Regions from separate parts of the Homo sapiens genome. Here region 2 is linked to region 1. The links come from fine-mapping of genetic effects on plasma protein levels. Region 1 holds a variant in brackets. A gene starts in the other region. All regions are shown on their forward strands.

Region 1 (5,528 bases):
CATCTAAATGTTGATCTGGGGAAACAAAGACATGAAAAAAGGAAAATGAATTTGTTGTCAAATTGAAATACCACATTTTTGTATTGCTGGCTGATGTGTCTGTAATTCTCATCTGCCATTCCTTCATCATATGTAAGTGTGTGTGTGTAATTTTTCCCTCCAAACCTGCAAAACATTGCAAAACTAGATTTAAATATTTCAGGCGGACTGCACCCAGCATTTGCATTCCTCTGACTCATTCAGAGAAAAGACATCTGAGCAGAAATACAGCAGATAAAAGAGAAACCATTAATCCAAGGAAGATTACTGGCACAGAATCTTTATCTTGTATCCTTCCTGAAATGAGACAAAGATCTCACTATGTACATCCCTCTGGCTTAGCTTCAGATAGAAAGCAATATAGAAGTATAGACATGGTCCTTTTTAAAGGCACACTGCTGTATTTGTCTGAATTCTGAAGCATCATCTTTCTGTTAGATTCTTGCTTTCTTGAGTGTCTTGCCTTCTTTCTCAGCATCTTCTGCCCTGGCTTTCATTCCTTATAGTGTAGCTTTCTGACTGGGATCCCTGCCTTCCCCAGGATGTTAGAGTTGACTTTTAAAAGACTATTACATAACATCCAGGGTAGTACTAAGTGCTTGAGCCATGAGGCACTACAGCCAGAGCCTTAGCTTAATTCATTTACTGTAGGAATCTAGGTATAACTTTATTTTCTTTATCTGTTAAATGGACAAATACCTGATCCTTATAGCATACTTCAGGCACAGAAATGTTGGGTTCATTTGAAAAAGCTTTGGGAGTCGAAGTGATGTAAAAATGCAAGCTATAATATTTTAAGTATAATATTAAAAACAAGTTGAATACCAAATTAAATAACTTTTAAGAATATTAGCCCAATTTACTAAGAGCATTGAAATCAGTCTTTCTTAGGAAAGGATTCTACTGTCTTCTTAGTTAAAGCCAAATACAGTAGTCATTGCCATTGCCATTTTGAGCATCTACTGCGCTGTGTTGGGCATTATTCAGGAATTACCTTATTTAATTCCTGCAACAACCCTGAAAAATAAATGTTATCTATTAACATTTCTATTTTGCAGATTAAGAAATGGAAGTTTCGAGAGGGTAAGAAATTTGTCCGAATGTTCATAGCTAATGGGTGTCCGGATTTGAACTAAGGTCATCTAGGCTTTAAATTATTTCCAATATTTTATTCTGCTACTGCAGTTTATAAAAGTCCAATCAGGTTAATACTCAACTTTGATGTTTCTTCGTTTACATATTTCCACTCCAGATGGATGAGAATATGTGCAGTTACAAATGTATTACACACAAGGTGGTTTAATAAGCAGTTTCCAAGTTTAACAGCCCTCACTGTCATTTCCTGATGAATCGCCCCAGTCCATAGATCAAGCCTAATGCCTCTCAGTCTTACTGACAAACAGGAGCACTGGCCCTCACTCTACATACAAAGTGATGTCCTTATCCTGAGTGTCCCATGATGAAGGGAATGTCAGGTCTGAATCTCTCATAGAGAAGTGACACTAGTCTGAGATGTCTGTGGGCACTGCAATTGTCTCCATCTTCATCAATCAGAAAGGTGTTATCAAACAAGATGTGTTAAAACCTTCAGATACTCCATGACTTCTACAGTGGAAGGGATGATTATGATACTGATGATGAAGATAGAGAAGGGGTTAGCAAAGTGAGGAGCTAGAGAATAAATATTTCAACCTTTGCAGGCCACATGGTCTCTATCATTAACTACTGAACTTTGTCATTGTATTGTAAAGGCAGCTATAGACAATACATAAATGAATAAGTATGGCTGTGTTCCAATAAAGCCTTATTTACAAACAGAGGCAGAGTGCTAGATTTGGACTGCAGGTATAATTTGTTGACTTCTGACTTAAAGGAATTTGGGTCAATTATTTTGTGCAGGAATGATAGGAGTTATTCATCCCATTTTTATTTTAGTGGACCTCCTCAACCTAAGGTAAAGAGAGAATGAACAGTATACAGTATTCCCCTCTAGTCATTGTTCCTAAGATTACTAAAAAATATAAGTCAGGATGATGATGATGACGACAATAATGATGATGATTACAAAATAATGATGCTATTCACAACCATCTGAAATTGATGTAAGCAATTCTTTCTATCTCAAGCCATAATTGGAAGCCGTACTCTTCTCTGACCCCTATTCCTGCTGAGCTGCCAATGGTCATTGGCCATTTTAAAAATAATTTATCTCCATGTTACAATCATAGCAAAACCTACTGTATCCAATTAAATCTCCACTTACGGCAGCCCAGGGAGTGTGATCACTTTCTGGAGATAGATCCATATCCCTGTGACCTTATCTTCCTATACTTTGCATTTAGCTATGAAATTAAATTGCAGGAAACGATACAGTTTTGAATCATTCCATTCAAAAGGCAGAAGCCAAAAGTTCTCCTAAGAGTGACAAACACATGGACTGCTTTTTAGATGGGAAACATCAGTACTTTAAGTGGGCTCTGTAAACTGGGACAGAGGTTCAAACATCTCCAAGCCTGGTGGGGTTTGTGCTTTCAGATTTGCTCCAGCTAGATTTTATTTCCAACAAAGGCTCTTATTCAGATAAAGGGAGTTTGCCTTTCTTGTTTCCTAGGAGACTTTTTTTTTTAATAGTTCCCTGGAAAAGATTCTTCTTGAGGCATTCTCAATCTAACTTCCTCTTCTGGTTAAGAAACTGAAGAACGTTAAAACTTGAGGTTATGGAGAGTTATGCCAACTGGGACTAAACTGTGATTATTTTGTTGATTTAAACTGACAGAAAGGTGAAGTCAGAATAAAATCTTGTTTCTCCTGTAATTTAGAGGCTAGGAACCATGATGGCTTTTTCCCCCCTAATAATGTTCAAATTATCCATTCAGAGTGATTTGATTTCAGTTTGAAGCTGGAGATCGCAGTAATAATCTTTCGCAGTATGAAGCACTTATTTACGAAGTAGTCTTTGCCATTTTTAATTGCACTTTCCCCTCATGCCCTTATTAATTATCTCTCTAGTTCCTCTTAGGTCTTGTCACGATGCCAAGTATTGAAATAGAAAAGGTTTATTTATTTCCAAAGACATGCAGAACAGGACAGGTTTTACATCTTGCTGTTTTGACTCTTAAAAGGTCATACTTGCAGTGGGCAAAAAGGTGCTCCGTGTAAATTGGGACCCCCCTGGATTTTCTGCTGGTAATGCACCCTTGGGACTGTTGCTTGCCTGGGGCATCCTTGGAATCCTGAAAAAGTGTTGTGTTTTGTGAATCTAGTGAAGCTGGAGTTCCCAAATAAAAT[G/GT]TTTTTTTTTGCTCAATAATGGTCAGCAACTCCCATATGCTCCTGGGATTAGATATTATTTCCTCTCATATGACCACAGCTTTGTTTTCTTCTACTTTGCTCTGCTTAGTCAAACAAGTCTCTTCAGTGTGCCCAAACTCTTCTTAACACTTTACTGCCTCTGTGTTCATGTCATTTCCGCCTTTTGGAATGTCTTTGTTCATGCCTTTCTTTTAGTCTGTTGAAATCTTACATATAATCCTTCAAATCTCATCAAATTTTCAATTTTTCATAGAGCACTTTATCAACCCTTCTTTGCCTCTGCGAGGTACTCGGATTATACTTCTTTTGTCCTGCCTGATATTATAACCATTAGTAATCTTCTCTTAACTGTCCCAGCTTGATTGTAAACTCTCAGGACAAGAAGGTATTGACTTATTTTATATTCCCCCGGAATCTTGAATGTGTGTGTGTGTGTGTGTGTGTGTGTAGTGGGTTTCCTACTCAGGTTTGATGAACTCAACTACAACAAAATATTCTAGTTCAATTCTTGGGGATCTATTCTAGAGAAGGTTGGTAATAAAAGAGCTCCTTTGAAAGGACAGATCTGATTGTCCTACCTGGGCTTTGAACACTCCAGAGAATTAGGTGAGGTCTAAAACAAACTGGATCCTAAAACTTATTGGAAGCAGCAACACCATGGTTAGATCCTATTCCTCAGCTCAAGGTGGCAGGGACATGAGAAAATGAGATAATTATTGACAGTAAAACAAAAGAATCTCTGTGGCTGAGAGACAGTATGAGCTGAATATATATGAAGAGCGTACTTTTCTATCTGTAAATTATAGAAGGAACATTGGAGTTATATCTGTATCTTCTTGAGTTTGACTACAACCTTCTTGTACAAAAATATTATTTGTTATGAGGGTTAGAGATGAGTGTTACTCAGAGAGGCAGCTTTTATGTTTTGCTCTTTAAGAGTCTTTCCAATTCTCAAACTTACCCTTCTCTAACTTTTAGGGCAGTTGAATGTCTTCTAACTGAATGATCTCAGCAGGACATCCTGAGCTTCTAAGGAGGTTAGCATTCCAGCAAACATTTGGCTTAGAGAATTCCTAAAAAAATAGTACTCTGAAGGCAGTTAAAATTTAAGGAGCCAATAGAAGCTGTATGTGTGTGTGTGTGTGTGTGTGTGTGTGTGTGCGTGTGTGCGTATGTGTGTGTGTTTCAGCCTCTGGAATGTGAGAGCTAGTATTCTCTCTAGTAATTTGTTTTTCTCTCTCACACTGATTACATACTCAGATTTGAAATGTAATAGAGTGCATATTATGTTATTCTCAGAATATTTGAAAGGAAACCAAACATTCCTTCCTTCAGGAGTCAGTTTTCCTAGTTGTGGTGTAGAAAAAAGTGACCTCTCAGAGAAGCCGATGAAATGACAGATTACTTTTTTTAAAATGGACTTAAATTTTCTGCAATATTCTAAATCTGAATCATCTGCTGAGTAGCTTTCCTTTTTGTGTATATATTTTAAAGTGCCAGTCATGGTTGAATGTTAATAACCAATCTGGCCATTGATCTTCAAAGATACAGAATGTCTTTCTAAATGTGCTGATTGTTGTGTTTAATATAATTTTAGTTTTGTTCTTGGTGAAGAGAGGAAGGAGAGGTCAGTCATATATTTGTGGGATTTGTATGTTTGTTCTTGACATTTGAACATTTTTGAATCTTTCCTTATCCATTTAATCTTTTATCCATCAAATATTTAATCTGCGCCTATACTATGTGCCAGGCTCCGTGCTAGGAGCTGGGAAGTGTCTGTGAAGCAAAAGCAAAGTCCTCATAAGAGACAAATAAAGAACAATTTCCAAGGGGGAAAAAAAGCTTCAGACAGTCCTCCGATAACTGCCCCTTCAGAGCCACTCTTGTCTGCTACTGGCCCCATACAAACCCTCTTCCCTCCTTTTATAACCCCACAGCCCCGGAGACCTTTGTGTGCCTTAGAGGTCAGCTCACAGATGTGGCCCTGGGACGCACTCCTCTTTATCTATATTGTACTTACAAGAGATGGAGGCTCATGGGTCTTTTCTAATTTTTTCCTTTTTCTTTTTTTGATTAGCATCTGCACAAATGGCCTCAGTTCATTGCTTTAAACTAACTAATCCGGCTTGTTAAGACAGAGCTTGTCATCCACAAGTTGTTATTAGCAGGCTTCTAAAGGA
Region 2 (5,000 bases), not on the chromosome of region 1:
AACTACCAAAGGCAAATGCACTGTAAAACTAATTAAATGTGCTGTTCAGTTTTAGAAATGAACAAAGGTAGTTCCTGTTCCTAAGAATAAAAGTGATTAGGGTTGACATAAGCAAAAATGTGGAGGATATTTGTGTAATTATTAAAGTCAAAATGTTCTTCATAAGAAAATTTTCCTATGTGACATTTTATAATGACTAAATTTAGTCGTCTTAAGTGGAGATGCTATTAAGTTTCTCTTATTAGATGTAGTCATTGGAAAATAGCTTAGAAAAAATAGTTTTATGGTACCAAAGTAGTAGTTTGACAGAGTGAGTTTTTCTCATAGAAAAAGAATGCAGCATTTTGGCCATACAGTTTGGAGGAATTTCTAGCTTGACACTTCTCTCTTCCTCATCTTTTCCCCACTATCTCCAATTATTTCATATATTTTAATTGATCAGGGCTAAATGTTATTTCCATTATAAAATGATCTTCCCTTTTAGAATTACCATGTTTTAGAGCTGCTGGGAGCAACTTCCTGAATTATTAACTCAACCTCAGAGAAGTAGTCCATGGCACAGAGATGAGCCCAACGTGATTGCAGGGTCTGTGTAAGCCACTGACATATGTTTGCATTTTTAGTGGAAAAATATAATGCAGGAAGTTTTGCTTTTCTTTTCTGGTGCTGAAGACAATTTGGAGGAAGCTAAGAGAGTATTTCCAGTGTATGAGCACTGAAGAGAAACAGTAAAGTCATGATTACCTTTGCAACTTTTATTAAAAATATAAGTATTCAACATTCTCTTACACAACCAAACTGACCAAGGACTGGAAAGATGTTTTATTACTGAAACGTTTACAAGAGAAAGTTGTTTCAAAGAGCTTACAGATTTAGTCTTACCCACCCAAGAGAATGGCATTCTCTTTGGCTCAGACCACAACAAAAACAATTGAGTGACTTCTGTCTGCTTTTTCAAACAAAACGTTTTCTCACAGGTCTACATTCTCTTTAAAACACCACTATAAACACCTGGAAACGGAAACTAAACGTAGACAAAACGAATAACATTGTGTTGCTGCTGCACGTGAATACACTTTGTGCATGCTAAGTAAGGGGTATAGGCTCTCTCCCTCTCTCCCTCTATGTTTCAAGCTATATAAAAATAAACAAATGGCATAAGAGCAGCGCTATGGTACAGAATACTGTATTTTTTTAAATTTTTTTTGTGCTAAATGCAGATTCTTTTTGGCCAAACGCACCGTTTTATTTCCCAATAATCTCCATGAGTTTCCTGTTGCTGTGAGCTTGCTGTGCTAACTGCTCGGCCCTGGCCATTTCCAAGACTTCCCGGAGGAGGTGGAAGGTGAGATCCAGGGAGATGGGAGGCTCCTCGGACCGCCTTTCTCTCTCCGGTGCCTCCTGGTGGCCGCCGAGGGCATTCCTAGCGCCGCGCTCCGCGAGAGCCGCGGGGCTGTCGAGCGAGCGCCGAGGCAGCAGCAGCTGCTGCAGCAACACGCGGAAAAAGTTGGCGGTCGCCTGTTCCGGCGAAGGGCGGCTGCCGCTGCCTCCGGCGAGGAGCGAGGAGGCGGGCGAAAGGGGAGCGGCCGGGCTCTTGTTGAGGTTCCCCAGGCGGAGGAAGTACTCCTCTCCCATGCGGAGCAGGACCGGCCGAGCCTGCGGCTGCTGGGGCTGCTCGGACTGCGGCGGCGGCTGGAAGAAATCCAAGGGCTGAGGGTGCTGCGGCGCCTGCCGAGCTCCCGGGACCGGCCCGCGGCTCAGGAGCGCCCTGCATGGCGGGCAGGGCAGGAGAGCCACCAGCAGGACTCCCGCGGACACAAGCAGCGGCAGCCGCATGTTAGGGGCACTCGCTGCGGCACAGAGGTGGGCGGAGGGCGGAATGAGAGAGGGGAAGAGAGAAAGAAAGAGTTGGTTAGAGTTCGCTCAGCTGGGAGGTGCACACGGGGTCTTCCTACGGGACTGCCTTAGACGTGCTGGGCTTTGGCCTCAGTGATTCGGATGGGCGCTGTCCGCGGTGCTGAAGCGCCTGGGGAGCGGGGAAAGGGGGCGCCTGCAGGGCTCCGCACCTAAGCTCATGCGCTCACCGGCCAGGAGTGACCCTTCTTTCTAGACTCTGAAAGGACGGTCCCTGCGTCCTCTTCCTAACGATCCTCAAAACTAATTTTCCCGATCCTAGAGAAGAGCCACAGATTTAAGATCCCACCCGCGCTGACTACCTCCCTTCCGGATATTTCAGCATTTTCTTCCAAATTGAGAACTACTGCCTCATGGTCCTCCCTCTCCACTTCTGCCCTTGCTGCCTTATCTCGGGGGTTAGGATAGAAGGGGGTGGGGGAGCTCCTTTACACAGCCAGCAAGGAGCAACTGGCAGCACGGGTAACGAAGAGCAGCCGTCTAAGTTTGCTTTTGCCACATCCCAGCTACTATTGTAATCTTAAGGAATAGTCCGCGAACACGCGCGCACACACACACGCACGCACGCGCGCATACACACACACACATACGCATACACACATGCATACACACACACACACGCACGCACACACATGCATACACACGTACACAGGCAGGGGCAGCCGGCTCCGCGGCGCACATCGCGGCAGCTCAGGCAACGCAAAGTTGGTGGCGTGTTCCGTCCAGGCGCTCCCTACCTTCCCAGGCGCTTCGCAGGTGAGCCGGGTGCTGCCGCCTCTCTGCAGAGAGACGTCTCCGGGGGCTTTCTCTGGAGGTTGTCTTCCTTTCTCTTTACTGTTCCCACTCTCTTTTTCTTTCTCTCCTCTCTTTCCCCTCAGTCTCTCAATGGACTTGGTCTCTGAGTTTCTCCACTCCAGAGCCTGGAGTGGGATTTTATAGTGTCGACCCTCTTCAAAAACCACGCAGCATTTGCCTAATAAGCTGACGCTCTCTTGACAGCTCGATTGCGTGCTGCCTCTGCTCCTGCATAAATCATAGGGCCCTGCCAAGGAACGAGGGGCAGAATTTTGCTATCTCAACACTGAATCTCACATCCAATTATATCAACAGATATTTATCGCCTCTTGGTGACGTCAACGAGCCCTAAAATGGAAGGGCTTCTTATGACTTGTCCATTGACAAAAATTCTTGAATGAGATTTCCCAAGTGTGAAAACATATTGACCTCTTACTATGAAAGGCCATATTAGGGGTGTGCAAAGAGACAGCGAATGGGAGGAGGAAGGGGAAGTGGGAAGGAAGTGAGGTGTCCCAGTGCAGCCCTGCCAGGAAAGCAGCAGCCAGTTGGAGGGGGTGGACCTGGATGCCCCTTCTCCTAACCTCCCTGACCAGGTGTCTCTGACAACACCTCAGTATCTGGAAATATCCCTTTGCTAGAGACAGAGTCCCACCATCTTTCTGCCTGGAAAAGAATGAAGCATCAGGAGAGGGGTGTGCAGGAACATCCAGCTTTTAAACGTCTATCTGCTTTTTCCTCCCAAGAGCAAGCACATAAAGGAGTTATGAGCCTGCAGAAGCAAGGCCAATAAATCTCTCAAAATGCAGTTCAAGTTTTTTAGATGATGACAAGAGCTACTCCCATAGTGAAGGGGCACAAACCGGGGTTAGTAAGGGGTGCGGCAAAGATTTTAGGTTATCTCAGAAACTCTCTGCTCCTTTTTTTGTCTCTCTTCTCACAATCTAAAATTAATTGTGGACTCCCTTTTCTATTCCCAAATTAAAGAGAGAGGCGGCCAGTGAGAGATGCATGAGTTAAACAAGCTTTACTTATTCTACTGAATGCAAACTCAATGAGAGGCATCCATTCTAACTTCCTAATCTATGTTGAAAAAGGCTTAAACTGCTTGACTACAGGGCTAAATTCATTAGTTACATGTTTTCATTGGTCAATATTGAGTCTGTAAAAAAAAACTCGTTCATTTCACCTCCAAATACTATCAACATCCATAATAGTATCCACATCTGGGCCACCCAGGGTGGTTCTTTTTAATTATTTCTTTTTCCAAATCCAAATGTGCTTCATGTCAGCCTGTTAAATAAATAAATGCTCTCTGACATGTCGCAGAATGGAATGGAATGCTAAGCCTGTAAAACTATATTCAATTTTTGATTAATTGACACTATCATATAGGTGGGAGGCAGTTACCTCTAATTCTGCAATTCAAAATGCAATTCCAAGTTCTTGTGCCTGTGATTCAATTCAGCTTCCAGATAACCATCAGAGTTGTTTATCGGAAATTTCCTGCTCCTCATTTCTGATTACTTCTGCTGCTTCCTTTGTAGCTAATGTGACAAATGATGCAATGCATATTTCAACTTCCATTTTGGGTCTATACCAATCCACAACTGCTCTTAGGAACAAAGGGAAGGCAGGGAGAGAAATGTTGACAGTTTGCAGAGAAGCCAGCCCATAGTTGGATCACTGCACCATGTTATGTACTTTTGACATAAGAGAACAGAGAGAATGTGCCTACTTGGAAAGATGTGAGTTGTTAATAGAAGATCATGATTATGGAAAATGGTTGAGTTTCTGGGAGAAAGCTGTGTTTTATATTGGTAGGAAAGCACACAGAACCTTAGATTTTGTTATTGTGGGCTTTTTTTTTTTTTATTAAGCTGGAATGGGTTCAACATTTTTGCTTACTTTCCTTTATGAACTGTTTTCTGACCCTGTTAGCAGATTTCAGCTTGGATGTCAATCTGGAGGTGAAACGTTGACTTGGAATAGGAAGTTTCAGTGCAGTAAATGGACACAGAAGATAAACTAGGAAAGGGATGTGGTTATGAGTTTAGCTGGGGAGGTCTGGGAGGTTCTTCCAGAGAAGACACAACAAGTTTTGGGCTCTGACTAAACCCATGCCCATACAAATCTCTCTCCCATTGGGCTATCTGGGGGATATTGTTTTAGTATAGCTCCCTCATCACTGTTGAGTCCTTGCTGTGAGGTTTTCTTGGGGTAAGTCATTAATAGAGCCAAAGTGGCTCCAACTAGGGAGTAAGGAAAAAAATGTTCCTGAACCCCAGAGG

Alleles and levels. Alleles are on the strand shown, and positions count from the first base shown. The strength of an association depends on the size of the effect and on how common the allele is.
As copies of GT replace G in region 1, the plasma level of the protein whose gene starts at base 2,823 in region 2 goes up (weak association).

What was found. PIP is the posterior inclusion probability: the model's chance that the variant is causal. The UK Biobank Pharma Proteomics Project read protein levels with antibody pairs (Olink). The fine-mapping took linkage between variants from a reference panel, not from the people measured, so its PIPs are less certain.
Region 2: CRH starts here. The variant in region 1 is fine-mapped to the plasma level of the CRH protein (UK Biobank, PIP 0.97).

Annotation. Positions count from the first base shown.
Region 1 is chr9:105,969,603-105,975,130 of GRCh38, forward strand. The region is part of intron 2 of LOC107987108 (a long non-coding RNA gene); the gene reads left to right. Among named protein-coding and RNA genes, the nearest start is that of TMEM38B, 280 kb to the left of the region's middle. The variant G/GT (reference allele first, on the strand shown) is at 3,328.
Region 2 is chr8:66,175,642-66,180,641 of GRCh38, forward strand. CRH (corticotropin releasing hormone) reads right to left here and starts at 2,823. Exons shown (of 2, transcript NM_000756.4): 1 at 2,652-2,823; 2 at 735-1,850. The coding sequence starts at 1,836. The coding sequence ends at 1,246. It overlaps LOC112268029 (a long non-coding RNA gene), which reads right to left. Exons shown (of 4, transcript XR_002956713.2): 4 at 4,245-4,319. RefSeq lists an enhancer at 1,709-1,778.